Homo sapiens: one gene and its partners. The protein of the gene in region 4 purifies or fractionates together with the protein of the main gene of each other region. This does not show direct contact. Each region holds a gene or a part of one and is shown on either strand. Other genes may lie near its edges.

Region 1 (3,500 bases), on a different chromosome or scaffold from region 4:
TGGTAAATACATACAATGGAATACTACTTAGCAATAAAAAGGAATACTACTGATACATACAGTATTTTTGCTGAGTGAAAAAAAGCCAGATCCGTAAGAGTACATATTGTATGATTTTCATTTGTATAAAATTCCAAAACATGCAAACTTATCTTTTTTCTCTTTTTCCATCCCCCTTATCTCTGAAGCAAACTTATCTATCGTGACAGAAAGCAGATCAATGGTTGCCTGGGGACAAGGCAAGTAGAGGGAGGAATTACCAAGAGGCACAAGGAAACTTTTGGGGATGACAGATATATTCACTAACTTGGATGCAATGATTGTCTCACAAGAATACATATATGTCAAAACTGTACACTTGGCCAGGCTCAGTGACTCACATCTGTAATCCTAGCACTTTGGGAGGCTGAGGTGGGTGGATCACCTGAGGTCAGGAGTTTGAGACCAACCTGACCAACATGGTGAAACCCTGTTTCTACTAAAAATACAAAATTAGTCAAGCGTGGTGATGCATGCCTATAATCCCAGCTACTTGGGAGGCTGAGGCAGGAGAATCACTCGAACCCAGGAGATGGAGGTTGCAGTGAGCGGAGATCGCGTCATTGCACTCCAGGCTGGGCAACAAGAGCAAAACGCCGTCTCAAAAAAAAAAAAAAAAGAACAAAACAAACAAAAAAACTGTACACTTTAAATATGTGTAGTTTACTGCATGTCAGTTATACCTAATAAAAAATGACTGGCTTGAAAACAAGTAGGCAAGCAATCAATATTTGCTGAATGAATGAACAAATGATTAGTGCATTCAGGAACCAAGACAGCCCTAGAAAGAAAGGTCAGAACCAGATCTGGATGGTCTGAACACAAGGCTAACATTCTTGGATTTTATCCTTTACATAATACATTTCTGAGGCTTCTGGGGAAAAGAAAGAGATATCAGTGAAAAATATTAATATAGTAGCAGGACAGAAAATGGACTGGAGATAAGAAAAGACTCAAACCTGAGAGATCAGACAGAAAGTAATTAAATAATCTAAGCATGAGGTAACCAATGTTCATACTTCTCTATTAGCATGGTAATGATAAAAACAGAAGGGTAAGACAAATATAAGTGAAACAGGGAGATAATAACTAATTGCACTTAAAAATCATTGGTATAGGCCAGAGGCAGCGGCTCATGCCTGTAATCCCAGCACTTTGGGAGGCCAAGGAGGGAAGATCAGTTGAGGTCAGGAGTTTGAGACCAGCCTGGGCAACATAGTGAAACCCCATCTCTACAAAAAAAAAAAAAAAAAAAAAAATATATATATATATATATACACACACACACACACACACACACACATATATACATATACATGTTTATATATATACATATATACACACACATATATACATATATATATACAAAAATAGCCGGGCATCATGGAGTGCGCTGATACTCCCAGCAACTTGAGAGGCTGAGGCAGGAAAATCTCTTGAACCTGGGAGGCGGAGGTCGTAGTGACCCAAGATCACGCCACTGCACTTTAGCCTGGGCAACAGAGCAAGAATCCATCTCAAAAAAAAATAAAAAATAAAAAATAAAAAAATCATTGGTATAAAGTTTCCAGTTTGAGTGACTAGCAGAACAGAACAAAAAGAATGAACTTAGAATCGGTTTGAGAAAATAATATGAATAATCTGATCTTGAACAAAGTTCAAGATGCTAGAAGGACAAGACATCCAAAAGTCAGTGCTGAAGGAATAGATTTAGGAGCCATACACACAGAGATGATAGCTAAAGCTGCTAAAGTAAATCAAATTTCCCAAAGTAGGTGAATACTCCCAGAAACCTCAGAGTAGAGAACGACAGCAACAAGATCTTAGGAAATTAAGAAATAAATGCATTTAAGGGGCAGGAGGAAGAAGATGTAACAATGAAAAAATACAGAATCAATGAGGCATAAGGTAACAACCAGAGACCATAAGCACATGGGACCTTCATCAAAAGAAATGCGCCCAGATCCAGATTCTACCACTTAATTAACTATAACGGAGTCCAATTACTTAATTTATCTAGCATCAGTTTCACTGTTTATTAAAACATGGGTAAGTGTTAATGTGTATTAGTTGCTATTTTAACAATAAAATAACACCTTACAAACAAGTAGATATAGTATTTCATAATTTCTGAATTACTCCTTAGGTTATCTCATTTAATGCCATAACCACCCTGTAAAGCAAATCATATCTGAATTCTACAGCTGAAGAAAGAAGGCCAAGAAAGAGTGAATCTCTTAGTTTTAGAAGTATGAGAACTAACATCATATTTAACTGGGTCTTCTGCGCATGGTACAGTGACAAAGAACAGGCTATAGAGTTCTTGAACTTAATGGGTTCAAATCCAGTACCATCAATTGTGAGCTGTGTGACTAGAAAAAAATTATTTAAGTGTTACGGATAATACTCTTGACAAAGGCATATGTATCTTCCTTAGGCAAGAATAAGGAAACAGAAATTTTTTTTTTTTTTGAGACGAAGTCTCGCTCTGTCGCCAGGCTGGAGTGCAGTGGCACCATCTCTGCTCACTGCAACCTCTGCCTCCCGGGTTCAAGTGATTCTCCTGTCTCAGCCTCTCGAGTAGCTGGGACTACAGGAGCATGCCACCATGCCTGGCTAATTTTTGTATTTTTAGCAGAGACAGGGTTTCACCATATTGGTCAGGATGGTCTCGAACTCCTGACCTCAGGTGATCCACACACCTCAGCCTCCCAAAATGCCGGGATTACAGGCGTGAGCTACCTACTGCGCCCAGCTGAAACAGAAAGTTTGAGGTGAAGAGCATGTGACCTCTTTGATTTTCTCAGGAAAATAAATAATTGAAGGGGAATGTGAACAAGGCAGTTTTCAACTATGCTCTGTAGATGTGCTATTGGACTCTCGCATACACAACCAAAATCTTGGACTTCCTCATTTTGTTATTTTGTTTTTTGTTTTTTTGAGACAGAGTCTCGCTCTGTCACCCAGGCTGGAGTGCACTGGCATGATCTCGGCTCACTGCAACCTCCGCCTCCTGGGTTCAAGCGATTCTCCTGCCTCAGCCTCCTGAGTAGCTGGGATTACAGGCACACACCACCATGCCCAGCTAATTTTTGTATTTTTAGTAGAGATGGGGTTTCACCATGTTGGTCAGGCTGTTCTCGAACTCCTGACACCATGATCCACCCGCCTCGGCCTCCCAAAGTGCTGGGATTACAGGCCTGGGCCACCGCGCTCAGGCCAACATTCAAGTTTTTTTTTTTTTTTTGAGACGGAGTCTCACTCTGTCGCCAGGCTGGAGTGCAGTGGCGCTCTCTCGGCTCACTGCAACCTCTGCCCTCCCGGGTTCAAACAATTCTCCTGCCTCAGCCTCCCAAGTAGCTGGGACACAGGTACATGCCACCATGCCCAGCTAATTTTTGTATTTTTAGTAGAGACAGGGTTTCACCATGTTGGCCAGGATGGTCTCGATCTCTTGACCT
Region 2 (3,500 bases), on a different chromosome or scaffold from region 4:
ATATATATTTTGGATGCAAGATAATCATCTAATTGCTTGGAAAAAGGCAACCTACTCTATCTTTAGTGCGTACCTATGTGATCCTAAATGGGATGGGGCTGTGGACCTGGGTTGAGATGCTGCTGTTGATTAAAGTGAACCCCTGAATAGTCTGCTCAATAACTAGGCTTGCTATTTTGTTGTGAAAGGGAAAGACAGGACCCAGATTAACCATTAAAATTTTAACTTACACTCACACCATAAGAATGACCATCTGACTAATAGTCCAAGCCTCAAAACTATTAACTGGCTCCTAAGCATAAATTCTATTAATATTTTATTGAGACACTGTAAGCACATTCAGATATCTTCACAAGATGAGTTCCACTATGATAATCACATCAAGACTACAGTATTATTTTTATTTATTACCCACATACCAGTATTGTCAGATTTAAGAAAAAAAAATGCCTTTGAAAGAGCCAATAAGCTTCATAACAAAATGTCATGGGGATCTGCTGAGCAGTGGTGACTGCATCCTATGATATACAGAAACCTACACAAAATTTATAGTCCAATATGCACAAATGCTCTCTCTATATATTAATTATATCCTAGAGAAATTATCATATACATATACCAAAAAACACATAAAGAAATGTTAAGAGCAGTATCACTTAAAATAGCACCCTAAATGTCCAACAAGAGAATGGGTAAATTGTGATATATTCATATAGTGGAATACTAAATAGCAGTGGAAAATGAATGAACTAGAGCCACACATAACAACAACAAAACTCATAAAATGTTTAACTAAAAAAGCACATTTCAAATGATTACCTTCAATGTGATACCAATTAGTTTTAAAAACATGCTTATTTAGATATATAACAAATGTAGTACAAATATATAAAGAAATACACAGGAATACCACACATTAAATATCCAATTTAGGATAGCTTTGGCATGGGAAGGGCAAAGGGAAGGAAAACATCTGAAGCCACAGTTGTTTTCCTCCTCACATACTTTTACCACGTTTTATTTCTTAAAAAGAATGGTTGTAGTTTCTTAAGAGTGATTTTTAAATAGGCTAACAATTACTTGAATCTGAAAATGTGAATGCCATCCCAAAAGCTAAACTTTAATGATATTTTAAAACCGCAAACTTTGCATTATTCGGTCAAGTCATAAGAAATGGCTGATTTTTTGTAGGTCAAAAAGTCAAATATTAACAATTCCATACGGTTCAATCTAATATTAAGAATTCTGCATATGAAGAGCAAAACGTTGGTAATCATTCATTTTTTACCCCAAAACTTTACCATAAAATGGTCTATATTTAACGGCAAGACTCAGAAAACAGAGAAATAAAACTGAAGTGGAATGGATGACTTAATTGCCAAAGGATGAAAAACAAAGATAAACCATCTAATATACAAATTACAAGGCTGGGTGCAGTGGTTCACGCCTGTAATCCCAGCACTTTGGGAGGCCAAGGCAGGCGGATCATCTGAGGTCAGGAGTTCCAGAGCAGCCTGGCTAACATGGTAAAACCCCATTTCTACAAAAAATTAGCCAGGCGTGGTGGTGCGCGCCTGTAATCCCAGCTACTCAGGAGCCTGAGGCAGGAGAATCGCTTGAACCCAGGAGGCGGAGGTTGCAGTGAGCTGAGATCGCGCCATTGCACTCTGGCTTGGGCAACAAGAGCGAAACTCCATCTCAAATAAATAAATAAATAAATAAATAACTTAGAAACACATATTGTACAAAATGTGGCCAAACTACTTTCCACTGATATAAAGCATTATTACTTCTTTTTTCTTTTTTGGGGGGATACAGTCTAGTTTTGTCACCCAGGCTGGAGTGCAGTGGCACAATCTTAGCTCACTGCAACCTCTGCCTCCCAGGTTCAAGCAATTCCACAGCTGAGATTACAGGCGCCCACCACCACGCCCACCACCACACCCATCACGCCCAGCTAATTTTTGTATTGTTAATAGAGACGGGGTTTCACCATGCTGATCAGGCTGGTCTTGAACTCCTGACCTCAAGTGATCCTCCCACGTCGGCCTCCCAAAGTGCTGGGCTTACAGACGTGAGCCACTGTGCCCAGAAGCATTATTACTTCTTTTCAAAGTATTTGTATTAATACATATTAATAAATCCTTAAAAGACACTTGTTGGGCAAAACAAGGATTTATACATATAAAAACTGAAGTCCAGAGGAGAAACAACTGGTCCAAGGACAAACAGGCAGCAGTTACCAGTCAAAAAAAATCAAAACTAAATTCAGGTTCAGTTCCAAAATTAGCTACAGTAAATCAATCAGGTCAACAAACAAGTGATTTTTCTGTAATTCCAATCAAAGATTATGAAAGGAATAATTTAAGACAACAACAATCAATGGAGTTCTGTCTCAATATAAAAAGTTCTAAACTATAACTCATTTTTTTGTAAAACTCATTTTTCATAAAAATAACTTTAGGTAGTGATTAAACTATTAGATTAACTCATAAAACCAATGCATTTATAAATTAACTAGAAAACTATAATCTTTCAGCAACACTGAAGAAATTATACACTGCATAAGCAGTCTCTCAATCCCCTTCTCTTCTTAAATGTTCAGTGCTAGTATTTTCACAACAACAACAAAACAAGGTTTAAATTAGAATGCTGAAAGAAACTTTTGAAGAAAATATTGAAGAAGACTTGGAGGTATTGTGAAAGTTTTTCAAAGGTAACAGCAGTGGATTTTTTAGTGAATAAATACCACCTTAAAGAATAATCACAAAACTAAAAAAATGTAAGACAGGGACAGAGATTTTTTTTCCTGAGCTAACAGAGACAGAAACTAAAAGAAAGGAGTTAGAAAAGACAAATGAGAACTTACTGACGAGGAATTAACAGGGTCACTCCACAGCAAGAAGCACAAGAAACAGCGGCAGCGCTGTGTATGAACAGCCAGCCCCACAGGGAGAGATTCAACGATTCCCTATCCAAGCTGCAAGGTCACTACCCAGAATTAAAGTGAGAGAAAGAACTGGCCAAAGAATATGAGCATATCTGGGTCATTTTTGCAAATATTGGGCATTTTTAATCCAAGAAATATGCCTACTGAAACCTACCAATACCTACAATTAATGTCTTAAATGCTCTTATTTCTACTTCCTTCTGAGTAGGAAAGATGAATGACAAGCTATCCAAATTGTTTCAGGTATAAATGGCAGCCTGGATAGTCACAACCAATCATTCAATGCCAGATGTCTCTGGTATGACCTGTTCTCCTCATCAGGGTCCACTACAAGGAAAACAGCTCCAGGACACATGCATATTACACCGTTAGAGAAGGGGGATGGGGAAGACCAACCTGCCTCTGCATTCAGCTCCTCTAGAAGCCCGCTGGTCCTCCAGGTAGCTCCTGTGTCCTGGCCGCCTACAGAATTACTGTGCTCTTGAACTACTGCAGCCGCCAATAAATTGTCCACATTTACCACTTCTGGGTCAGAGTTGGTGTCAGACAT
Region 3 (3,500 bases), on a different chromosome or scaffold from region 4:
AAGGAGTATGGGATTTCTTGTGCCGGTTCCTTCACATCCTCACTACACTTATCTGCCTTTACAGTGGCTCGATCATAGTTCACTGCATAGCCTTCTGGGCTCAAGGGGTCTTCCAGCCTCAGCCTAATATAGGCACATGCCACCATGACTGGCTAATTTTTTTTTTTTAAGTTTTTTTTTGTAGAGATAGGGCCTTGCAGTGTTGCCCAGGCTGAGGAATTTTATTTATGTTTATTTTATTTATTTATTTATTTATTTATTTATTTATTTATTTATTTATTTATTGAGATGGAGTCTTACACTGTCACCCAGGCTGGAGTGCAGTTGCGCGGTCTCAGCTACTGCAAGCTCCGCCTCCCGGGTTCATGCCATTCTCCTGCCTCAGCCTCCCGCGTAGCTGGACTACAGGCGCCCGCCACCACGCCTGGCTAATTTTTTGTGTGTGTTTTTAGTAGAGGCGGGGTTTCACCATGTTAGCCAGGATGGTCTCGATTCCTGACCTCGTGATCCACCCACATCGGCCTCCCAAAGTGCTGGGATTACAGGTGTGAGCCACCATGCCTGGTCTAGAAATTATTTTATATTTTATACCATTGCCTTATAAGTTCTCAAGCAACTGGAAAATACAATCAGAACGTATTCCTCAAGATTTCAAGGATATTTTACACAAAGTTCTATTGTCTGATTCCTTAGCAGTTGTTACTACTGTTTCCCTAACCTCTAATCTTCTATTGGGTTATTAGTCTTAGAATTGAATTTTGAGAGGTAAGGGCTTGAATTTGAACATAGAAATTTATACAGGTCTGATCAGTAGTTCTTGACATTGTATTATCTGGAAACAAATCTTTAGAACTGAGCTTAAGATGTTTAATGACATTTTGTAGACAGAGTATGATTTCAGTGTAGTTGTTTTTGTTTCTTTCTAGATCTAGTTCAGAGATGAAGTATATCAACTTTTTTTTCCTTTTTGACCCAATGCTAGCAGAAAAACAACACCTTTTAATCATATTTAGTATTTGAAAATGTGTATACAGGTTCCTTTTTATTTTATTTATTTCTTACAGGTTCCTTTTTAATCAGCTTTATTGAGATAGAGTTCATATACTGTATGGTTCATACCACATATGGTTCATATACCATACAGTATATGAACTCACTTTAAGAGTATAATTCAGTGGGTTTAAGGGTATAATTCATTCATTTTAAGGGTATAATTCAGTGGCTTTTAGTATATTTTCTTTTTTTTCTTCTTTTTTTCTTTTTTCGAGACAGGGTCTTGCTCTGTTACCCAGGCTGGAGTGCAGTGACGCAGCCTCAGCTCACTGCAACCTCCACCTCCCAGGTTCAAGCGAATTCTCTTGCCTCAGCATCCTGAGTAGCTGGAACTACAGGCTCACGCCACCACACCCAGCTAATTTTTATATTTTCAGTAGAAACAGGGTTTCACCATGTTGCCCAGGCTGGTCTCGAACTCCTGGCCTCAAGTGATCTGCCTGCCTCAGCCTCCCAAAGTGCTGGGATTACAGGCATGAGCCACCGTGCCTGCCTGTTTTGTAGTGTATTCAAACAGAGTTGTACAACTGTCACCACAATCAGTTTTAGAACCCCAAAAAGAAACCCTGTACTCTTTACCAGTCACTCCCTATCTTCCGTCCACTAACCCCTGGCATCCACTAATTTACATGACCTCTATGAATTTGCCTATTCTGAACATTTTATAAATGGAATTCTAAATACACTACCTTTTATATCTGGATGCTTTTACTAAGCATGTGTATTTTTGAAATTGACTTTAAAGCTTGTTGGCCCCTGGAAGAGTAAATTACTCTCCACCCCAAGTATTCCCTCTACCCCTCAGCTTTGCCTGTAAGTTTCTTTTTAAAAAAATCACACATACATTGTTGTAGTAGATTTAAGAATAAGTATTTTGCTGACCCAAGGTTCTTTTGCTTCTTTCTAGATCAGTGCCTTGCAGGTTTTATTTTACAGAGCTTAATAGAATCAGAAATCTCTTTAAAACTCCAGTCTCATATCCAGTTATCACTCACCATCTCTGTGTTTGCAGCAATAGCCAGGCCTGGCCCAGAGGGACTTGATCTCCACTTTTGGTTTTTAGACTTTTCTGTGGCTTTTACCACCTGCTGTGTATCCTTGACCTCATACTGCTGGACTCCTTTGGATGGATACCAGCAGGATGGTTCAGGCTCCAGTGGGCACTTTTTAAAATTCTCTCCTTCTGTTCAGATAGACAGAGCTCAGGCAGATCACCAAGTCTGTTGCCTGTGTAACCAGGAAAGAGATGCTAGTTTTCTTTTAGGCACTCCCATTTGTTTCTGTTGGAACCTTCCTCACTTAGTTGATGGAAGGGAAGCAAAAGACCCAGAACTCCATCTCAAATTAATGACTTAACAATTCTTGAATTTTCTCTTATCTCCTAGTTAACTCTTTTTCTTATCTCCAGGAGGTCAGTTTTAATTATTGTTGTTTATTCATTTATTTTCATGGAGACAGGGTCTTACTGTGTTGTCCAGGCTGGCCTTGAACCCCTGGCCTCAAGGAATCTTTTCACCTCAGCCTCCCAAAGTGCTGGAATTACAGGCATGAGTCACCACACCCAGCCTGATATTTTTCAGTTGATGTATCATAGTTGTGCCTAAGCATAATTTTTTAATTTTAATTTTTTATTTTTGGGGACAGGGTCTCCCTCTGTCGCCCAGGCTGGAGTGCAGTGATGCGATCTCAGCTCACTGCAACCTCCACCTTCTGGGTTAAAGCGATTCTCCTGCCTCAGCCTCCCGAGTAGCTGGGACTACAGGTACCCACCATCACACCCGGCTAAATTTTTTGTGTGTATTTTAGTAGAGACGAGATTTCGCTGTGTTGCCCAGGGCGGTCTCGAACTCCTGAGCTCAGGCAATCCGCCTGCCTCGGCCTCCCAAAGTGCTGGGATTACAGGCATGAACCACCACGCCCGGCCAAGCGTAATATTTTTAAGGGTCATCAATGTTGTGTCATGAATCAATCAGTGTTTCGTTCTTTTTTATGGTTGAATAATATTCCATGGTATGGATTTGTCACATTTTGTTTATCCATTCATTAGTTGATAGACATTTTGGATTTCCACTTTTTTTTTTTTTTTTTGCTATTATAAATAGTGATACTATGTACAAATTTTTGTGTGGAAATATGTCCTCATATCTCTTGGTTATATACCAAAGAGTGGAAGTGCTGGGTCATATGGTAACTACGTGTTTAACATTTTGAGAAACTGCTAAACTGTTTTCCAAAGTTGCTGTACCGTCGTACATTCCTGCCAGCAATATATGAGGATGCCAGTTCCTTCACATGTTCACTACACTTATCCACCTTTTTTATAATAACTAATGGTGGGTGTGAGATGGTATCTCATTGTAGTTTTGATTTGTATTTCTCTGATGGCTAAATGGCTAATGATGTTTGAACTTTTTGTTTGAGACAGAATCTCACTCTGTCCAGATTCA
Region 4 (3,500 bases):
AACTCCTGACCTCAGGTGATCTGCCCCTCTCGGCCTCCCAAAGTGCTGGGATAACTGGCTTGAGCCACCGTGCCCGGCCAAATTCTTGTATTTAGTAGATTTGAGGTTTCACCATGCTGGCAAGACTGGTCTCAAACTCCTGACTTCAAGCGATCTGCCCACCTTGGCATCCCAAACTGTTGGGATTAGAGGTGTGAGCCACCTCGGGTGGCCAGTCTAAGCTATTTCTGACAGTGAAATGACTGAGGCAGGAACAGGAGCATCTCATCATCAACATCACTGAAGGCTGACAAATCTGATTAAACAAAGGAAGTTTAGAGCCTGTACCATAAATCTTGCAATACCTGAAGCCATCTATAGCAATTACGTGTTTTAAAAACTTTGAGGCTGGCCAGGCATGGTGGTTCACGCCTGTAATCCCAGCACTTTGGGAGGCTGAGGCAGGAGGATCACGAGGTCAGGAGATGAAGAACATACTGGCTAACAGGGTGAAACCCCATTTCTACACAAACACACACACACACACACATTAGCCAGGTGTGGTGGCATGTGCCTGTAGTCCCAGCTACTTGGGAGACTGAAGCAGGAAAATCACTTGAACCTGGGAGGCAGAGGCTGCAGTTAGCCAAGATCGCACCACCGCACTCCAGCCTGGGTGACAGACCGAGACTCCGTCTTAAAAAGAAAAAAAGAAAGAAATGAAAGAATTCTAAAGAGTATCTCCAACCCACAAATATATATAAAGTTCTCCAGTAAAGGTAAATAAAAAGACAGGCCGGGCACGGTGGTTCACACCTATAATCCCAGTAGTTTAGGAGGCCGAGGTTGGTGGATCACTTTAGGGCAGGGGTTCGAGACCAGCCTGACCAAAAAGGAGAAAGCCTGTGTCTACTAAAATACAAAATTAGCTAGGTGTGGTGGCACATGCCTGTAATCCCAGCTACTCAGGACACTGAGGCAGGAGAATCACTTGAACCTGGGAGTTGGAGGTTGGAGTGACCCGAGATTGTGCCATTGCACTCCAGCATGGGCGACAAGAACAAAACTTCATCTCATCAACAAAGAAATAAATAAATGAATAGGCAAATAACAGGACACATACAGAAACTGGTGTAAGTATACCTTCTCTAGATAATTCAACTTTTTTTTCTGTTATTTAGAAGAAAAAAGCATGAAAAAACACTACATATATGTTAATGCGAATGCAACATACAGAGAAATAATTCTGACATAAATACAGAGTTCTAGTAGAGAAAGAGTGGCTTTTGCAGGTTATGGAATTTTGTTGTTGTTGTTTTTTTTTTTTTGAGACAGAGTCTCGTGCTGTCACCCAGGCTGGAGGGCAGTGGCACAATCTCGGCTCACTTCAACCTCCACCTCCAGGGTTCAAGCGACTCTCCTGCATTAGACTCTTGAGTAGCAGGATTACAGGCGCCCACCACAGTGTCCGGCTAATTTGTGTGTTTTAGTAGAGACGGAGTTTCGCCATGTTAGGCAGGCTGGTTTTGAACTCCTGACCTCAGGTGATTTGCCTGCCTCGGCCTCCCGAAGTGCTGGGATTACAGGCGTGAGCCACTGGGGCACAAAAATTGTTTGAGCCTGAAAGGCGGAGCCGGCTGCGGTGAGCCAAGATCGTACCATTGAACTGTAGCCTTGGGGACAGAGTAAGACTCCATCATAAACAAACAAACAAACAAAAGTCAATAAGAAGGGAGTCAAAGCATGTCTACACAAAAAAGCAAATAAACACAAAAGTAGTAAATGAGAAATGAAGAACAAAAAAACCTACAATAAATACAGATAATATGTAACAGAATCACAAGGGTAAGGTCTTCTCCATCAGTAATACTTCAACTGTAAGTATTTAATCTGCACTCAGAAGGCAAAGACTGGCTGAATCAACAGGAATCAACTACATGTTGTCTACAAGAGACTCACAGACTCAGCCTTAAGGACACACATATGAAATTTTTTTTTCTTTTTTTTTTTGAGACAGAGTCCCGCTCTGTCGCCAGTCTGGAGTGCAGTGGCAATCTTGGCTCACTGCAACCTCTGACTCCCAGGTTCATGTGATTTTGTTGTCTCAGCCTGGATTACAGGCACGTGCCACCACACCTGGCTAATTTTTGTATTTTTAGTAGAGAGGGGGTTTCACCCTGTTGGCCAGGGTGGTCTTGATCTCCTGACCTCGTGATCCACCCACCTCAGCCTCCCGAAGTGCTGGGATTACAGGTGTGAGCCACCATGCCCAGCTGCACATATGCAAAAATTTTTAAAATAAAAGCCAATAATTAGGTATGGGGTTTGGCACCTGTAATCCCAGCTACTCGGGAGACTAAGGAGGATCTCTGGAGCCCAGGAGATCAGGATGAATTTCAACAACACAGCAAGACCCTGTCTGGAAAAAAAACAAACTAAAAAAGTTGCCCGACATGGTGGCATGCACCTGTACCAGCTACCAGGGGAGGCTCAGGTGGGACAATCACTTGAGCCCAGGAATTCAAGATTGCAGTGAGCCATGATCACACCATTGTACTCCACCCGGGCTGACAGAGAGAGACACTTTATCTAAAAACAAGAGAAAATATAGGCCGGGCACGGTGGCTTATGCCTGTAGTCCCAGCACTTTGGGAGGCCGAGGTGTGTGGATCACGAGGTCAGGATTTCAAGGCCATCCTGGCTAACATGGTGAAACTCCGTCTCTAGTAAAAAATAGTACAAAAAATTAGCCAGGCATGTTGGTGGGTGCCTGTAGTCCCAGCTACTTGGGAGGCTGAAGTAGGAGAATGGCGTGAACCCGGGAGGCGGAGCTGGCCGTGAGCCGAGATCATGCCACAGCACTCCAGCCTGGGCGACAGAGCGAGACTCCATCTCAAAAAAAAAAAAAAAAAAAAAAAAAAGGAGAGAAAATACAAAGATACGCAAGGGCACATCCCCAGGAGGGAAGTCATCCTCACCCAGGGAGACCAGGTTCCTATAATTCTCCAGCATCACGTCCCTGTATAGAGTCCTCTGAGCAGGGTCCAGGCATTTCCACTCCTCCTGAGAGAATTCTATGGCCACATCCCTGAATGTCAATAGACCCTGAAATGAAAACACATTTTAACCAAATGGTTATGGGAGGAGTTCTTATCTTTACAGAAAATGAGAAGAAGAGAGAGGTGAAGGCATGGATTTAAATGCAGTGAATGTTCTAACAAATCTGAGTAAGGGATTTTTCACCGCATTTTGTCTTCCCAGTTGTGTTTACTAAAGTTCTTTTTTTTTTTTTTAAAGGTGGAGTCTCACTCTGTTGCCCAGCCTGGAGTGCAATGGCACAGTCTCTGCTCAATGCAACCTCCAAGTCCCAGGATCAAACGATTCTCCTGCCTTAGCCTCCTGAATAGCTGAAATTATAGGCACGTGCCACCACGACCAGTTAATTTTTGTATTTTTAGCAGAAACGGGGTTTCACCATATTGCCCAGTTTGGTCTCAAACTCCTGACCTCCTGATCTGCCT

What was found.
Region 1: the proteins of ZNF765 (region 4) and TRIM37 purify together in Homo sapiens (co-immunoprecipitation; one large-scale study listed by IntAct). This does not show direct contact.
Region 2: the proteins of ZNF765 (region 4) and ARK2N purify together in Homo sapiens (co-immunoprecipitation; one large-scale study listed by IntAct). This does not show direct contact.
Region 3: the proteins of ZNF765 (region 4) and PPM1G purify together in Homo sapiens (co-immunoprecipitation; one large-scale study listed by IntAct). This does not show direct contact.

What each region holds. Positions count from the first base shown.
Region 1 is NC_000017.11:59,100,381-59,103,880, forward strand, and holds part of TRIM37 (E3 ubiquitin-protein ligase TRIM37), read right to left. Parts: intron 1-3,500. UniProt on the Homo sapiens protein: E3 ubiquitin-protein ligase required to prevent centriole reduplication. Probably acts by ubiquitinating positive regulators of centriole reduplication.
Region 2 is NC_000018.10:46,240,034-46,243,533, reverse strand, and holds part of ARK2N (protein ARK2N), read right to left. Parts: coding exon 3,347-3,500; intron 1-3,346. UniProt on the Homo sapiens protein: AMPK substrate important for exercise capacity and skeletal muscle function.
Region 3 is NC_000002.12:27,399,592-27,403,091, reverse strand, and holds part of PPM1G (protein phosphatase 1G), read left to right. Parts: intron 1-3,500.
Region 4 is NC_000019.10:53,401,649-53,405,148, reverse strand, and holds part of ZNF765 (zinc finger protein 765), read right to left. Parts: intron 3,085-3,500; coding exon 2,958-3,084; intron 1-2,957. UniProt on the Homo sapiens protein: May be involved in transcriptional regulation.